Homo sapiens: one gene and its partner. The protein of the gene in region 1 binds, or shares a complex with, the protein of each later gene. Links are inferred from orthologs where the notes say so. Each region holds a gene or a part of one and is shown on either strand. Other genes may lie near its edges. The genes, in order: HOMER1 and GRM5.

What was found.
Region 2: the proteins of HOMER1 (region 1) and GRM5 are in contact, whole or in part, in a crystal structure (PDB 1DDV), measured with the Rattus norvegicus proteins. The link is inferred for Homo sapiens from one-to-one orthologs. Residues at the interface, in NP_113895.1 of Rattus norvegicus: His12, Phe14, Trp24, Thr70, Ser71, Gln72, Lys73, Phe74, Gly89, Phe90; in XP_006229721.1 of Rattus norvegicus: Thr1155, Pro1156, Pro1157, Phe1160.

What each region holds. Positions count from the first base shown.
Region 1 is NC_000005.10:79,510,601-79,519,761, reverse strand, and holds the start of HOMER1 (homer protein homolog 1), read left to right. Parts: upstream 1-5,627; 5' UTR 5,628-6,987; coding exon 6,988-6,992; intron 6,993-8,744; exon of another isoform or gene 8,745-9,161. UniProt on the Homo sapiens protein: Postsynaptic density scaffolding protein. Binds and cross-links cytoplasmic regions of GRM1, GRM5, ITPR1, DNM3, RYR1, RYR2, SHANK1 and SHANK3.
Region 2 is NC_000011.10:88,503,144-88,510,358, reverse strand, and holds the end of GRM5 (metabotropic glutamate receptor 5 isoform a precursor), read left to right. Parts: intron 1-854; coding exon 855-1,767; 3' UTR 1,768-5,717; downstream 5,718-7,215. UniProt on the Homo sapiens protein: G-protein coupled receptor for glutamate. Ligand binding causes a conformation change that triggers signaling via guanine nucleotide-binding proteins (G proteins) and modulates the activity of down-stream effectors.

The DNA of each region.
Region 1 (9,161 bases):
TGCTGAGGACCTGGGTAGAACAAAAAGGCAGAGGAAAGGCAAATTCTCTCTCTCTTCTGGAGCTGGGATATCTGCCTTCTCCTGTTCTTGGACATCAGAACTCCAAGTTCTCAGGCCTTCAGCCTTGAGCTGAGAGTCACAACATTGGTTTCCCTGGTTCTCAGGCCTTGTAGGCTGAGACTGAATTATGCCGCCAGCTTCCCTAGTTCTCCAGCTTCAGACATTGATTTCTTGGCCTCCATAATCACATGAGCCACGTCCTATAATAAATATCACATCTGTCTCTATGTCTATCAATCATCTACCTACCTGCCTACCTCTCTCTATATATATACCCTATTGGTTCTATTTCTCTAGAGAACCCTAACTAATACAGATACATTTACCATTTCCATTTAATATTTAGAGAAATTAAAATTTAGAACAAGATTTAAAAAAATAAAAAGCCTCATAAATAATTCATGAAATATTTTGGCTGAAACTCTCAAGTGTTGAGAATCTTCATTTATTTCTGATTCTTTTGCTTGGGAGAAACTTTAACACGAGTTCTAGGTCTTGCTTCTGCCTGCTTTAGCCATAAATATAATATCTATCCATTATGTTCTGCTTCAGAGAGTTTGCAATTGCCATCTTAAAGCCCCATCTCTCTTTGAAATGCTCCAGAATTTCTGCCTCAGCCTTGTCTCTCTGAAAAGAAGGCCATTTCCTTCCATAAGAATGATTGTCCTAAATACCTTGTGGGTTGTTTTTGTTTTAGTTGGCACCATAACAGTCACAAAATAAGGTAGTTCATTTAAAACATTTTCCTCATGGTTGTTCTGTTCCCCCATTCAGGAAAAAGACTATTGGTTACCATGGCAATCAGCTTCCACAGCATTCCATTCTAAGTAACTGCACAGGTACAGCACAACCTTTACTCCACATTCTTTACTGTAGTTCTCTGCAGATCTGCGTATTTTTCTAGCCTGTTTTCTCTAACTCCTGCTTAAAACAATCAACCAACCAACCCAGGTTAAGCCAGACAATTTTTTCAAAGGTACCTTATCCCCATCTTTTCTGAATATTTTAAAAATGTTATATAGACAGTTGTACTACCATTTCCTCTAATTTTGTTCTATGTGGGCCCTCAACAGCAGCTAACTGAAAACTTTCTAGTACCCTCTTTCACTATCTAGGATTACATTTGTATCCCTCTGACCATATTTGGAAAATGAATTTACAGTAAAAATCAGAGCAGGAGGTAGTTCTGAGATCATTTCCCATGGCTATCTACCATAGTTTTCCTAAGGCTAATTCTTTAGCTTCCTTTCCTCTACCACTTTCAAACCTCTGTAATAAATTGTCCTCAAGCCTTGCCTTGAAGATGCCAAACACTTGTGTTCCCACCCTTCAGACTGTTTAACTACTTTGCTTCTGTTCAGAACATTACTGACAATAAAAGATGGTCTTATTACAGGCCATACACAACTCAATGGTACCCGGTATCTGCTATATAATGGAGGAAGTGGGATGATTTTGGAGAGTCACTGGATAAATTCTGTTTCCCTGCAACTCTTTCATTCTTATTACGTTTACTCTTTGCTGGTTAGTTTCTTCATGACTATGTATTATAAACTAGGAATTATGATATTTATTTTATATAGAGAGATATCTTTTAACTTATTTTTCAATCTGACTTTATTTGAATTGATAGTGGTATTTTGGTAATTAAAAGCAAGTTGTTATTATCTAATGTAAGGCAATTAAAAATAAAATCTGGCTTTTACTCTCTTTCCTGCAAAGGTTTTCTATCTCTTAGATGTCTTTTCATTGAAAAAGACATATCTCATGACCAGTGTATGAACACCCCATTGAAGATTGCCATCTCCTATTAAGGGCATGGAAATAAACTCTGTAACTAAAACAGATGCCTTCGCCCACAGATTCTAAAATCAGAGGGTATTCATAAACCGCCCTACAAATTTTCAGAGCACAGTGGGAAACAGGAACTGTTAAAATCTGAAACTCTACTAAAGTACTTTCTTCCTCTTCCGGTAAAAGAAAATATATTACTTTCTAGGAAGTTTACTATTTTAAAAAACATACAAAAAAATCAGGGTTGGGAATTCACAACTAAAATTTGGGTTACATCAGCTCATCTTAGGAGAAAAGATATTTATTTACTTACAGATGGAAAGCCATGGAATGCCTCTCTGACTCCTCTTAAAACTGTATTGGAATTGTTTCAAGCAGGGAGAAAAGGCTATTTTTTTCTGAGAAGACATGCCATATTACATAAAATGTTTCAAAGTTTTACATATTCTTTTGACTACATGGACACATGTACTTACTGATCCTGATCCCATATAAGCTGGCAAGAAATTCATACCTATAAGTAATAAATTATAGGTAGAATTTTCTAGATTGAGGCTGAAGTTAAATAATTGCATAAACTTTGAGTAATTATATCACAGTGCACCATTCAATTTATGTAGAAAAAAAGCTGCTCTCAATTTTCAGTTGATAAAAGAGCAGCTGAGAAGAGACGATGTGGTTGTGAAAAGTAGAAACTAACAAAGGGTCAGCACTCTAAAGGCAGGAAAGCAGCTGAAAAGCTGTTTTGACAGTTGGGTAAAGATGAGGGGAAAAAAGACTGTAAATGAGAGGAAGTTGTGATGAAAGGGTAGAATAAAGTGTTTGAAAATGGTAAAGTGAGAGCTTTAATTAACATGGAGAGAAAGAGCAGGAAAGAGAGAAGTTATTTAGTTAGGTAGGAAATTGTTTGTAGAGAAATTTTAGTAGTGTAATAACATAATTTGTATTTTAATTTGCCAAGGGATGACATTATTGGAAGAATGATAGTTTTATTGTTTTAACATTTTAGATATAAGAAGCTCCATTTGTCTGAAATACAAATTGGTACAAGTTTCGATTAATATGATAATAATATACATTAGACAAATTGGCAAGCAGGGATTTGCCTTTCATTAACCTTTTGTTATAACCTTAAAACAAACAAACAAAAAGCAAAACAAAAAAAAACGACGCGGTCGGGCGCAGTGTCTCAAGTCTGTAATTCCAACACTTTGGGAGGCCGAGGTGGGCGGATCACTTGAGGTCAGGAGTTTGAGACCAGCCTGGCCAACATGGTGAAACTCCGTCTCTATTAAAAATACAAAAATTAGCCGGGCGTGGTGGCAAGTGCCTGTAGTCCCAGCTACTCAGGAGACTGAAACAGGAGAATCACTTGAACCTGGGAGGTGGAGGGTGCAGTGAGCCAATATCGTGCCACTGCACTCCAGCCTAGACAGCAGAGCGAGACTCCGCCTCAAAAAACAAAACAAAACAAAACAACGTAAAAAACTAGGGTGAGCGCTGTGGGTAATGCCTGTAATCCCAGCACACTGGGAGGCCGAGGCGGGTGGATCACCTGAGGCCAGGAGTTCGAGACCAGCCTGGCCAACACGGCGAAAACCCATCTCTATTAAAAATACAAACATTAGCCAGGCGTGGCGGCGCGCGCCTACAATCCCAACTACTTAGGAGGCCGAGGCACGTGAATTGCTTGAACCTGGGAGGCAGAGGTTGCAGTGAGCCGAGATCGCGCCACTGCACTCCAGCCTGGGCAACAGAGCGAGACTCAGTCTCAAAAAAAAGACTTAATATTTCAAACTTCAAGCAAGATCATAATTTTATAATGTGAAGATGACCAGAGTGTTTGAATCAGTTACAAATGGGTCTTTTTTGTTGTTGGTGGTGTTCTTTAATCTTGGACTCCTAACTTGAGCAAGAAAATGTAAATACAGAAAGCTGCAAAACCAATGTTCCTTAATTAGGAACCATGTGAGTAGTTTAACATTACAAACAGTTTCTAAAAGTCACACGTGGTATACATTCTAACGAGTTTTAGCTTCTTTTATTTAAACTGCGTTGATATTGATCTATAACTTTCCTAATAATCACTTCATAGGTTGGTAATCCTATGTTTTGGATTTTCCAGGTCACTTCAGATTCAAATATTTTTTCCTAACGTCAAATGGTGTGTCTAGATTTTGGTCTGGAAAACAGGGTCACTAAATTTGTAGACTAACTTGAAACAGTATTGGCCTTTGGCAATACGCAGCAATTCTATTTCTTGGCCATGCTTATCAAGTTAAGTAAAATAAAATCAAAGTTCACTATATGATTTACCTAATTAAAAAATTGTTTTAACCTAATTACTTTAAAATAATTTAAAAACTCTGTAGTAATTTACAATGTAAAAAGCACTCATAATATGGTGTTTATAGACACACATAGCTAGTAAACCTATAGACAGCTACTCACCCTTGCCATACAGAAAATGCAAAACACACTTAAGAGATATTGTAATTACATATTATGTGGTCAAAACTAAAGAAGACGAAAATATGCTTGTGTTAATGAAAAAGGATTTGGTGCTCTTTCTTATTTTTAATTTTTAAATTTTAATTTAAATTCCACAGACTGAAACCCATATACTTTTTCTCTTTCTTGTTTTACTGGCTGGAGCCAAGTGTCATGGAACTCATATTCTTGATGAAGAGAAACTGAGAGGACACACTGGCATTTGCTATACGTGAACTAAGATTGACTCATTTTCCTATGTCAAAACTGCTATTTTGCAAATAAAATTACTATCCTTTATAACATTATTTCGTTTGCTTATTGCTCTGCTCTTTATTCTTTCGTGTTTCAGGTAACCACTAACAAAAAGTTTAAAAGTCGACTATGTCCAGAATGGCACTCTATAATTGAAAATTTAGGTGATTTTTCCGAAGTCCTGTTGGAAGCACATCTACCAGCAGTGTGATCAGGCTCTCCCTCCCACATTTCCCTGCTAGTCAGGACAAGAGAAGCCCGGGGGTGCTGCTGCAATAGCGGTGGGAGTGGGAGATAGGCTATTACCCGCTTGACACTGCACTTTTGCTACGAATGATTCACTCAGGTTTGGCACATTTGTTGCAAGGAAATCTCCTCCTCCCGCCGCTTCCTTGTTCGAGCTCCTCTCGGGCTGTCTCCTGTGCTTTGGCCTTTAAGGAGAAGTGAGAGCAGGTGGGCACACAGGAGCTCGCCGAGTCCTCCTCCCCCTGCTCCTTCCCTAATTTAGCAGTACTTCCGGCCGCGTGACATCATCCCCCGCACCTCGGTGACGTGAGCTGCGGGTGACGTGTGTGCGGAGAGAAGCGCGCTGACGTTGCTATTTAAAGGTCCTCCTGCGGGGAGGATGGAGACACAGCGCGAGCACCTGGTGTGGGGCGCGGAGGAGGCTGTGGCGGTCGGGAGCGGGGCCAAGAGCCAGAGGAGGAGCAGAGCGCACGGCCAGCCAGCCGCCAGCCTCTAGGGGAGGGGGGAAAAGAAGGACGAACGGACTGAGGGCCTGCCGCCGGCCCAGCTCCCCACGAGGGCCGCTCGGCCCCCCACCATCAGCCTCTCCGCCGCCTTGCGGCTGCTGCTTTCTCCCGCGGCCCGCTGCTCGCAAGGCCCGTCGGGCTCCCGGGACCAGTCCGCGCCCCAGCCCCCGGCCGCGGCTCCGCGGCGGCCACCGCCTCCCGTCCCTTCCCGCGAGCAGAGGGAGGGACCGCCCTCGCTCCCCGTTCTCTCCGCCCCCTTCCCGCCCCCCGCAGCCCACTCTGCCGCCGCGCTAGCTTCACGCCGGCGGCGCTGACCGGGAAAGCAGCACCCTCTTCTCTGCCAGCCGGCCGGCCGGCGGAGGCGGAGGCAGCGGCAGGCTTCAGGCCGCCGGGGCTGGCGCTGCTCTGCCCGGCGGTAGCCGGAGGCGGGCGCTGATGGAAGTGTGAAGAGGCGGCGGCGGGGCCCGGGGAATGTGAGGCGGCGCGTGGCGGCGGCGCGGAGCGTGAGAGACGAGGAGTAGGGGTGGGGGCGCTGGAGCGGCGGCTGCGCTTCGGCTTCGAGCCCAGCTCTCCTGGCCCCAACGCGGGCTTAGCCTCCCGCCTTGGCTCGGGCAGGCGCCCGTCGACCCTTCGGCCCCTTTCGCCCGCCCTGGAGCTGGGGGCAGGGTGCCAGTGGAAGCGTGGGGCTTGGCTCTGTGATTCATTCATTCTCCGCCGACGGGAGCCTCAGACCCGCTGTGCTCTGAAGAGAGGAGGGAAGAGGGGGCAGCCGCGAATGAAGGGCCGGGCACCAGCCGGGCTCCATTGTGCTCGGCGGCGGGGGGCGGGAAGGGGCTGAGGGAGGTGGGATCGGGTCCCCTCCTCCAGCTCTCCGGCGTGCGCTGCGCCCCCAGCCTGCTGCCAGCCTGGAAATGGCTCCGTTTATTCTCTTCGGGAGAATGAATCGATCCTGCCTAGCCTTCTCTTCGTCCTCCCCACCTCTTCTCTGCTCCGAGTCTTAGGAGGAGAAACATTTAAAAAGACAGATTCCAATGTGGAGTGCCGTGCAGGTTGCGAGCTGCCGGGTTTGCACTTCGAGGAGATTTTCCTGTGTAGTTTTTTTCCTAATGTGAGCGCAGGGAAGCCGTGGCATTACTGCTTTTGGGATTTTTATTCACGTGCACGTCGCGTTTGGTTGCTCGCTCCACCCCCGGAGACCTGGTGTGGTGGAGAAATTTGAACCCGCAGCCTTAGCTCCGAAAAGGCCGAGTTACCTGGCTCTCCCTGAGTGTCGAGGAGGACATGAGTGAAATGACCAGCGAACTCATTTTTTATAGGACTCGGTGAAGCCGGATTCTGCATTTCCCTACTTGTAGACTCATTTTGTGGAATAGAGTTGATCGCTGTCTCCTCCGCAAAGCATTTTAACTCGAATAAGCAAATGCCGCCTCTGTTTGAACGTTTTGGTATTTACAAGAGAGAAATCATTTTACCTAAGAGAACTAATTGAATTGGCAGCATCCTTGAAATACCTCCGGACAAGGATCTGGGGGTGGGGGTGGAAAAGCAACTGCGAAATAGCAGACGGAGAAATTCCTTTGGAAGTTATTCCGTAGCATAAGAGCTGAAACTTCAGAGCAAGTTTTCATTGGGCAAAATGGGGTAAGGATTTTTGTGCTTAACACAGCTTCGAATCTGTTTATGTATGTGTATTATTGAGCGGTGGTGGTGATTGTGTTTTGTGTTTTCAAACAAACTTGCCACCTTGCTAAGCTGGTCATACTTTAAAGAAATAGGCATGCTAACCTTTTAGGTTATTTTTGCATTTTTGTAGAGCGGTACCAGAGGTCATAATTTAAAAACACATATATCGTTTGTAACTTGAATATGGATTTGTGAGTAATGTTTACAAAGACAACGCATTCTACACTTTACTGGTCAGACTGCTGCATCAGTTTGTAATCAAAATCACATTATTTTAGCTTTTGCTGACGGTTATCTTTCAAAGAGAAGTACTGCATTCTCTCAGTACTTTTAGATAATCAGTTGCACAAAGGAACGATTTTAATGAGTGGTTAGACAACAGTCCTTGAAAGTGATCCAGAGTAAATTGTTGCCCTCACCGTGCCCTCTGTCTTGTCCTTGAATATTCAAAGCTAAAATGTATAGAATTGATTTACTGGGGCGTTAAAACGAAAATCTGAAATTCAGTCTTACTGATGCGGTCACCACGGTACGGGTGCATTTCGTAGGAAAAAGCTTTTTGTTTAAGGAACTTGTTCACTCCTTTTGTTTTTCGCTTTTAAGCTCAGCCCTTCAGTTTGAGTTAACAGTATCAGATCTACACCTTCCTTCGGACCCAGAGCCAACTGAGAGTGCATTTTCCAGTCTTTTATTAACTCTTCACACTGTGGGTTGATGAAATGCTAGTGACACTTCCTAATTTAAGCTGGAAACCCATAATATATTAATGGAGCAATCTGATTTCATTGACAGGTTGTCACTGCTTTTTGGCAGAAGAACTTCCAGAATTTTCTCTTTTTGTGTGTGTGTGGTTGAACAAACACATCTGAAGTGTAGTTGAGGGGCATGTTTTAAAGAATGGACTCTGCAATTCATCGTGATGGTTTAGGTGTGTACACACGCTTGAAACTTTCTGAGGAAAGTTCTTGAATAGTACCTTCCTTTTGGAGTTAGAATTTGAAGTTTAACATGCATAACTTTGAAAATTTAGAGCATGTTGTAGGAGACGTTCCTCAGAAATTAATGACAAAGTTATAATGGTTTTAAAAACTTGAATGACAAGTGATGAGAATATATATAACTTGCATGATTTGGGGGTACCGCTAAGAGTAATTAAAATACCTCATTCTATTTCTAGCGCTGCTATTAGTAGCTTAGTGATCTGAGGCAAATTACTTGACCTCTGTGGACTCTATTTCTTACCTGTAAAATGAACGATTTAGAGATGACTTAAAGATTTCTCCAAACTGTAAAAAACGAATTGCTTTCTTTTTATTCTCCTCCTCATTTTAATGATCACTAGTTGGTTTCTGCAAGTCGATCTTTCTGATGGAGACCTTTTTCACTCTAAGCAGTTTAAGCGCTTAACGCTGAAAAATAATGGCATTTGAAAAATGTTTTGGATGAATTGCACCAATTTTAAATGAGAAAAATACTGAAAAATACTACTGTTCAAAACCTTAGAAATATGGCTTCCCTTGAGCATCTGCAGCTCTGTTTAAAACATGTTGGAGGAAAAAAAATCAAGCAGCAGTTTTTCATGTTGATGGCTGCATTTTGTCTAGACTGTGGAGTAGTAGCATCATGGAAGAAAATCAGTTTTCCAGAACCTTTAAGCTGCATGAATGCCTGTCATTTTACCAAGGGAAGCTTAGGATGAATTTTTTTTTCCCTGCCTGAGGTTTCTTTGTACAAATAGCACAGGAGGACCCCAGCCCCACAGCCCCATGCAGATGGCAGCCTGGCGGGGGGTCGCACCAGTCCTGTCCTCACGTTGGCAGATAGAGATATCTACTCTGAAGCCTCTGTAGGGGCCTGGGCACCTTTGGGAGCCTGAGCTGGAACTGAAGCTGGAGCTGCAGCCTGGGCCTTGGTTTGATCCTTGTCCTTGGCCTTTGGCCAGCACACCCTGAGCCCCTTGGCAATGCGGGCACGAGCATGCTTCCCAAGCTTGGGGTGGACAGTGTAGGCAAGTTGAGCTTGCGGCTGACACCCTTTGGGATCTTGGGCTTAACCTCCTTGGGCTTTAGGAGGGCCTTGATAGCCTTGGCATGTGCACTCATGGCCTTGGCACTGTTAGCCTGCATC
Region 2 (7,215 bases), on another chromosome or scaffold:
ACCCCATGGTGGAAGTGCAAAGGAGAAAGAGAGAGAAAGGCCTTCAAAAAACTTGTCAGTCCCTCAATATTCACCAGGATCCTAATTTGAGATCACTCTGCTAAGTGCCGAAGGCATTATACAGCACTCTCACTCATTGAACTGTTATTCAAGTACAGAACTCAAAATACATTTGTGAGGTGAATTTCTGTGAAGTAAAGAAGCTCTCATTAGAAATGTGTGTTCATTAAATTTTTATTTTCCAGCAGGTAAGGCAGCCTAAGTAACACTATGTTCAAAATCAGGGGTTCAGACAGAAAACCCTAGTTATATATATACCAACTTCCAGAATAAAGGCGGAACTGGAACCACTGACTACCTCCTGGTAATCCCTGACTCTCTTACCCCTTCCCTCCTCTCTGATGATTGTTGGTGAGTTTGGGTCCTAGTGGTAATGTTTTCCTTCAGAGGCCACTAACTCTAGGAAGCCCCTGTCCTGTACCAGGCACTTGTGCACACAGCCGGGACACTGCAAGCCCTTGCATCTGTGTGCTGCTGCACTCACAGGTGGGCTCAGAACTCCCGCAGAATCCTAATAAACACTCCTTCATCCTGACAAGCATCCCCTTTGACACATTTTCACGATTATGATAAACTGAAGCCCTGATATAGAAAGCAGTCTTTAACTCAAAACAAGCAAAGGAAAGCCACTTCCAAGGTCTCTTTCCATGATGTCCTTTTGATGCTGTGTTTCCTGAAAGAATGAGAAAAGTCCTCCCCAGTCCGGGGCCCATGAGCAACCACCATTGGGGAAGCGGCATCCAAGCCCCCTGGGCACCTCGCTGAGTCACCTTTCCTCTCCCTTCTCTCCTCAGTTCCAATGGAAAATCCGTCACGTGGGCCCAGAATGAGAAGAGCAGCCGGGGGCAGCACCTGTGGCAGCGCCTGTCCATCCACATCAACAAGAAAGAAAACCCCAACCAAACGGCCGTCATCAAGCCCTTCCCCAAGAGCACGGAGAGCCGTGGCCTGGGCGCTGGCGCTGGCGCAGGCGGGAGCGCTGGGGGCGTGGGGGCCACGGGCGGTGCGGGCTGCGCAGGCGCCGGCCCAGGCGGGCCCGAGTCCCCAGACGCCGGCCCCAAGGCGCTGTATGATGTGGCCGAGGCTGAGGAGCACTTCCCGGCGCCCGCGCGGCCGCGCTCACCGTCGCCCATCAGCACGCTGAGCCACCGCGCGGGCTCGGCCAGCCGCACGGACGACGATGTGCCGTCGCTGCACTCGGAGCCTGTGGCGCGCAGCAGCTCCTCGCAGGGCTCCCTCATGGAGCAGATCAGCAGTGTGGTCACCCGCTTCACGGCCAACATCAGCGAGCTCAACTCCATGATGCTGTCCACCGCGGCCCCCAGCCCCGGCGTCGGCGCCCCGCTCTGCTCGTCCTACCTGATCCCCAAAGAGATCCAGTTGCCCACGACCATGACGACCTTTGCCGAAATCCAGCCTCTGCCGGCCATCGAAGTCACGGGAGGCGCGCAGCCCGCGGCAGGGGCGCAGGCGGCTGGGGACGCGGCCCGGGAGAGCCCCGCGGCCGGTCCCGAGGCTGCGGCCGCCAAGCCAGACCTGGAGGAGCTGGTGGCTCTCACCCCGCCGTCCCCCTTCAGAGACTCGGTGGACTCGGGGAGCACAACCCCCAACTCGCCAGTGTCCGAGTCGGCCCTCTGTATCCCGTCGTCTCCCAAATATGACACTCTTATCATAAGAGATTACACTCAGAGCTCCTCGTCGTTGTGAATGTCCCTGGAAAGCACGCCGGCCTGCGCGTGCGGAGCGGAGCCCCCCGTGTTCACACACACACAATGGCAAGCATAGTCGCCTGGTTACGGCCCAGGGGGAAGATGCCAAGGGCACCCCTTAATGGAAACACGAGATCAGTAGTGCTATCTCATGACAACCGACGAAGAAACCGACGACAAATCTTTTGGCAGATTTTCTTCTAGTGGCCTTAGAAAACATGGGCTTTTAAGAAACACGGCTGATATCTTTGAGGGCTGACAAGGCGTCTCTTCAAACAGTTCCATACCAAGTGCTTTGCTCTAGGGAAGCAGTGCGTGTGAAACAGCGTAACGGAGGGTGAAGAGCATAGTTAATAAGCAACTGTAAAAAGTTTTATTTGTTTACTTTAATTCTTTTCCCAGAAGAGTCTTTGATTCACCAAACATGAATGTACATTTTCTAACAAACTCAAAATCTGGGACCAAAACATCAACTTTTTTCTTTCTTTTTTCTTTCTTTTTGTTTTTTCTTTCCTGTAAAGACCTTGAAAAGCAGTAACTTGGGTCCAGTATTTACGGAGGCGTTGTGAATGTGTCCCATGCATAACACACTACTGGATAGTGAGTGCTGCGCTAATGTACTACGTAGGGCTTCTACCAGAGATTTTCCTCTCCAATTGGGTTGTGAAATACTCTTCCAAAAGCCTGCATCGGGGATTCCACCTACTTATTTCAGATTCACCTCCATTAACCAAGAAAACCAGTGGAAGATTTCTTGACTATTTCACCATGTTGCCAATCAATACTGGAGTAGCAAAAAAAATATTTTCTGGAATACTGTTTTGTAATTCCCTCACTGGGGTGCATTGTAGCTGGAAATTCTCTTTATAAAAATCATTCTTGAGCTCCAGCCTGGCTATCTCTTTCAAGAAACATGGCCACTCTTTAGGAATGCTGTTGCGTTTGCATTGCCAACTAAAATATTAAAATATGCATTGGGGCTTCTTCATTCCTTTATTTTGAGAACCTGATGCACAAAGAGCTCCTTTGTTCTTTTCGAGTCCCACCACTGGAAGAGTGGTCCATAGACCCCATGAAGACATTGTCATGATTTGAGAGACTGTTGTTGAAAGGATTAACACAATCTTAATACACTGAAAATTTTAACTGTGTCAAGTCAGCTTAGTGGAGATTTAGCTATGCCAGTGAGCAGTGATTTTAACTATTCTTGGCTGCTTAAACAGGGCAGCTATGAACTATGACAAATGTAGATTTTTCAAAGCAATACAAAATACTAAAAAAGAGGAACCTTAATGAATATTAACCACACAGTCTTTCTTAGCCATTCCAAAAAGAGGCAAAGCAATTCTTATTTTCTTTTTTAAAATAATGATTAATATGATTTTGTGCACTTCATACTGTCACTTTTTAAAACTACAGAAAAGAGATTTAGAGTATAACAGAAACAAGTGTGCTTTGATAGTCTCAAATAGGTAGAATTCATAGTTCAAGACCTGAATCCACTGTCATCTCTTTCTTCCTCCCATTGCAGCTATCCTCAGGTACCAAATGTTTTGATTTTTAAATAAGGATAGTAATAAATGGAGGAGGTGTCCTATAAATTTAAAGTTCAGTTGACCCAGCCTTATACTTAAGATAGCCTTATGAAAAATATGTGCTGTGAGGCAGAAGTATATTTTGGCAGAGAGAATAATAAATAAAACTTTTTCTTTTAGCTCAATATCCTTACTTTGGTAAGTATTTTTTTTTATTTCACATCTACTTAACAGAAAATAAACTGAGAAATAGAAGTCAGTCCATTGGCATAATTTATCATTCTTCACTTTAAAAAATTCTAATAAATATTCTGCTTGAGTTTTCTTTTCTGCTATTTGTTCTTACTTGCAACTTTAAGTCAAACCTCCCAATACAAAACATTAAAAGCTAACATTAATGTACTAAAGTATTAATTTAAAAGAAATCGAACCTCCCATGCTAGATTTGAAAATAACATCATCACAGCACCCTGATCCCAAATATTACACCGAGGCTTTTAAAATGTAAGTGAAATCTAGCTAAGTTTCATGGTTTCATTAAAAGCAAATGTCTGCCTCTATCTGAAAAACAAATGGAAATCTTTTGAGGTGTTAATACCCTTTGGATCCTCATCAAAAGGATGGCATTCACCTGAGGATTCCTATCTTGACTTCTTAGGTATTAAAAACCTTTCTTGATATGCTCTACATTTTAAAATTTGTTTTATAAAATCCTTATGTTGATTTTCATTTTATTCTCAAGTACAATACGTTTCACTCTAGACCAGTTGAAGAACATGTTTAAACTTTGTTCATGGTCAAATTCATTTTCTATTTTTTTAGTAACATATCTCTTAAAAAGCACACTACCTTATAAAAAACTTCATCAGAAATTAAATTTAATGCAAGTAAATTGCCATCTGATACTTCCACATGCTATCATAATCAACTGTAATAATAAAAATGATTTATCCAATTAGAAAAGGACAAGATATATTTTTCTCTGTATTTCTATAACTTTTGCCACTCCATTGAATACATTGTATGTTGGACATAAGATTATTAGTAATGCATTCTTGAGATCTTTTATTTTGGAATGATGCTAACTCTGTCTCTTTGCCAATTCTAATACCAGGTTCCAAGTAATAACTCTACAGTACAAAGAGAACTGAATATTCATTCTAGGGCTATAGGATATGAACTTCACAATTCATTTGGGTACATTCTCATTGAATTTCCTTCAAAACAATCTGTTCCTGGTGCCCAGTGATAATTCAGTCGGGACCAGCATGACTAAAAGGAAGGGGATATGCTAAGGCTCAGCAAAGTGACCCTAAATGAGAGATATGTCCCAGGATGGAAAGAAGAAGACGTGGTTTAACCAAGTTATACTGACTAATCTAAGCAGTCCACTCATCCTTCCATTTTGGGAAAGGAGTGGGGGCAGCCTAAGAAGAACATATCTGGATTGGGAAGAACCGTCTTTCTGGGCTAGGGATGGGGAACAGAAAGGGAGTATGGAAAGAAAAATTATAAGAGATTTGACTGAAGCAAGGAAAAAAAGCAAATCCCCAAACGTGCTAATCCTTGAAAGTAACTATCTTTCCCAAACTACTGCTGTTACCAGCAAGTGATCAGGAAGACTAGGAGCTATTTCTGACTGTAAATGAATTGTATAATAGCTCTGCTGCAGTTCTGTGACTTCCAAGCCAGGAATTAAATGCTCTTTTTAAGAATAACAAAAAACAAAAGCATTTCCTATGCTAGTCTCCCAGTAAAATGTACATGTTTTGGAGACTTCAAAGGTATTATGTGAGTTCACATTTAGCAACAGCTTATTAATAACCCTCAAGCTGTCAGAATCTCTATAGTTACCATTTACAATTTTATACTGTGAAAAAATACAGATCAGTGAAAGCATAAAGACAAGTCAGAATTCACTTTGAAGAGGGTCTGAGGCCTGGGAGAGTCTCTACTGTCTATTGAAGAATGAGGCATGTATAAAATAGTTGGTTGAATTTCACTGATCTTCCCAATGTGAACAAATATACTATGTATATTGTGTGTATTTCTAGAAATCAATGGCAGCTGCTGATGGTGTTGTAATTAGAAATCTATATAGATTATAGATGTTTTAGAAAGATGGTGCCAATCCTAAAAGATTTGTGTGGGCTAAAAGTGCTTGTACTTACTTTTTTCTGCACTTATAACTGATTTGGTTTTAAAATTGTGTGCGTGTATCTGTTCTTTCTCTGTTGTGGCAGCTTGTACTATTAAAATAATAGAGAATGTTAAATTATTTTGATGTGAACTGCAAATGATTTTTTTTCATAAAGTTTAACATTTTTATCAGCATTGTTTTGCTTTGTACTTGTATAAATATGTTTTATTTTAGCACTTCAAAATATACTTGCCTGTTTCTCAGTTGTCTAAATCATGTTGTACTTGGTGTTTGTGAAGCCAGTTACTTTTCAAAAAAATTAAAAAACCTATAATATGATTTTAAGATTATTCCCCTCAAATGTTTAGAATGTTGTCTTAATAGTGTTTTCTGAGATGAAAAGAGCCATGATACTAATTAATCTTGAATACTGGATGATCTATACATTTGAATTATGGGGTTTACAAAGTAAGCAGTGGACTGTATAGATTTAAATGAAAATATAAACCAACCACAAACCAACCAGAGATGTTGTCCCCAAACACATCTACAAACAACTGTTACATAAAGAAGTACTTAAAAAAATATATAGGAAATATGCATTGTTTATGCATCTAGACATACAAATTATAGAAATAGTTTCATAATTATATGTGTTGATAGAGGTAACATCACACAGATAAAATAGATTATTTGTGTGTGTATAGATGTGTGTTTACAAACATACATATTTATATAGACATTTGACTTTTGAGTCCATCTGCATGTGTCTCTGTGTATATGTGTGTTTGTGTGTAGATGTATGTGCATATTACATAATTTTTCCAGAAAAAAAAAAAGTTTTACTTTGACTGATTCTTGAGCAAATATACATTCCCTGGACACAAATTAGTGAAAAACTAACAGCAGAATATAAGGTAGATGCTTGATGTATGGAAGAGAAAAACAAGGTATATTTAAAAATATATTTGATTTATGCTTCTGACATTGTATTAAATGCATAATGATATATATACATATGTAGATACATATATTATACAGAATGTGTTTGATCTTAACAAAGAAAGCCATTTTATCTGTTTTGTCAGACTCTTCCCTTCAGTATCTTTTATTCTAACGTGATATGAATGGTAATATGTTCACATAAAATTGAGGATGAAGTGACATATACAAACCAGGTACAGGAAATTACCTTCTAAAAATCCAAAGAGCCTTATCAGACTCCATCAAATTATGGAAGGCCATTTAAAACCAGCGGATGCAATAGAAATAGCATTGAATTAAAAGCCAGGATCTCTTACCTGTCACCAACTGACTTTGGATAAATCACTCTGATTTCTCTACAACTTGTTCCTCTTGCTTTAAATGCAGAAGTGAGTTACAATAATCTGTGAAGTTTCTATCATTTCAACATTCCTGATAAATGCTCAATAGTAGCTATTATTAGTGTCAATGTAGTATTTAGTATACAGTTAATATTCAGCAGGAAGCTTAAATTTGTTATATCAATGTTATTTGTGGAGCTTAACAAGTTCCTGTCCAACTTAAAGCATATATCCTGGAGGAAACCTATTGAGGTTTGAACTCATATGCAACCTTGGAACTGTCTATCAAGGACAACTTAGTAAATTGATATTGAACACCACAGAGAGAATGCTTTTCCTCTGTTATAATTGCTGCTGAATGCTGGCCAAGTTTTTGGTTATGCTGTACATGAATGATCAGTTTTAGAACATAAACAATTTGCAAATATTTACTTTGTATGATAGCT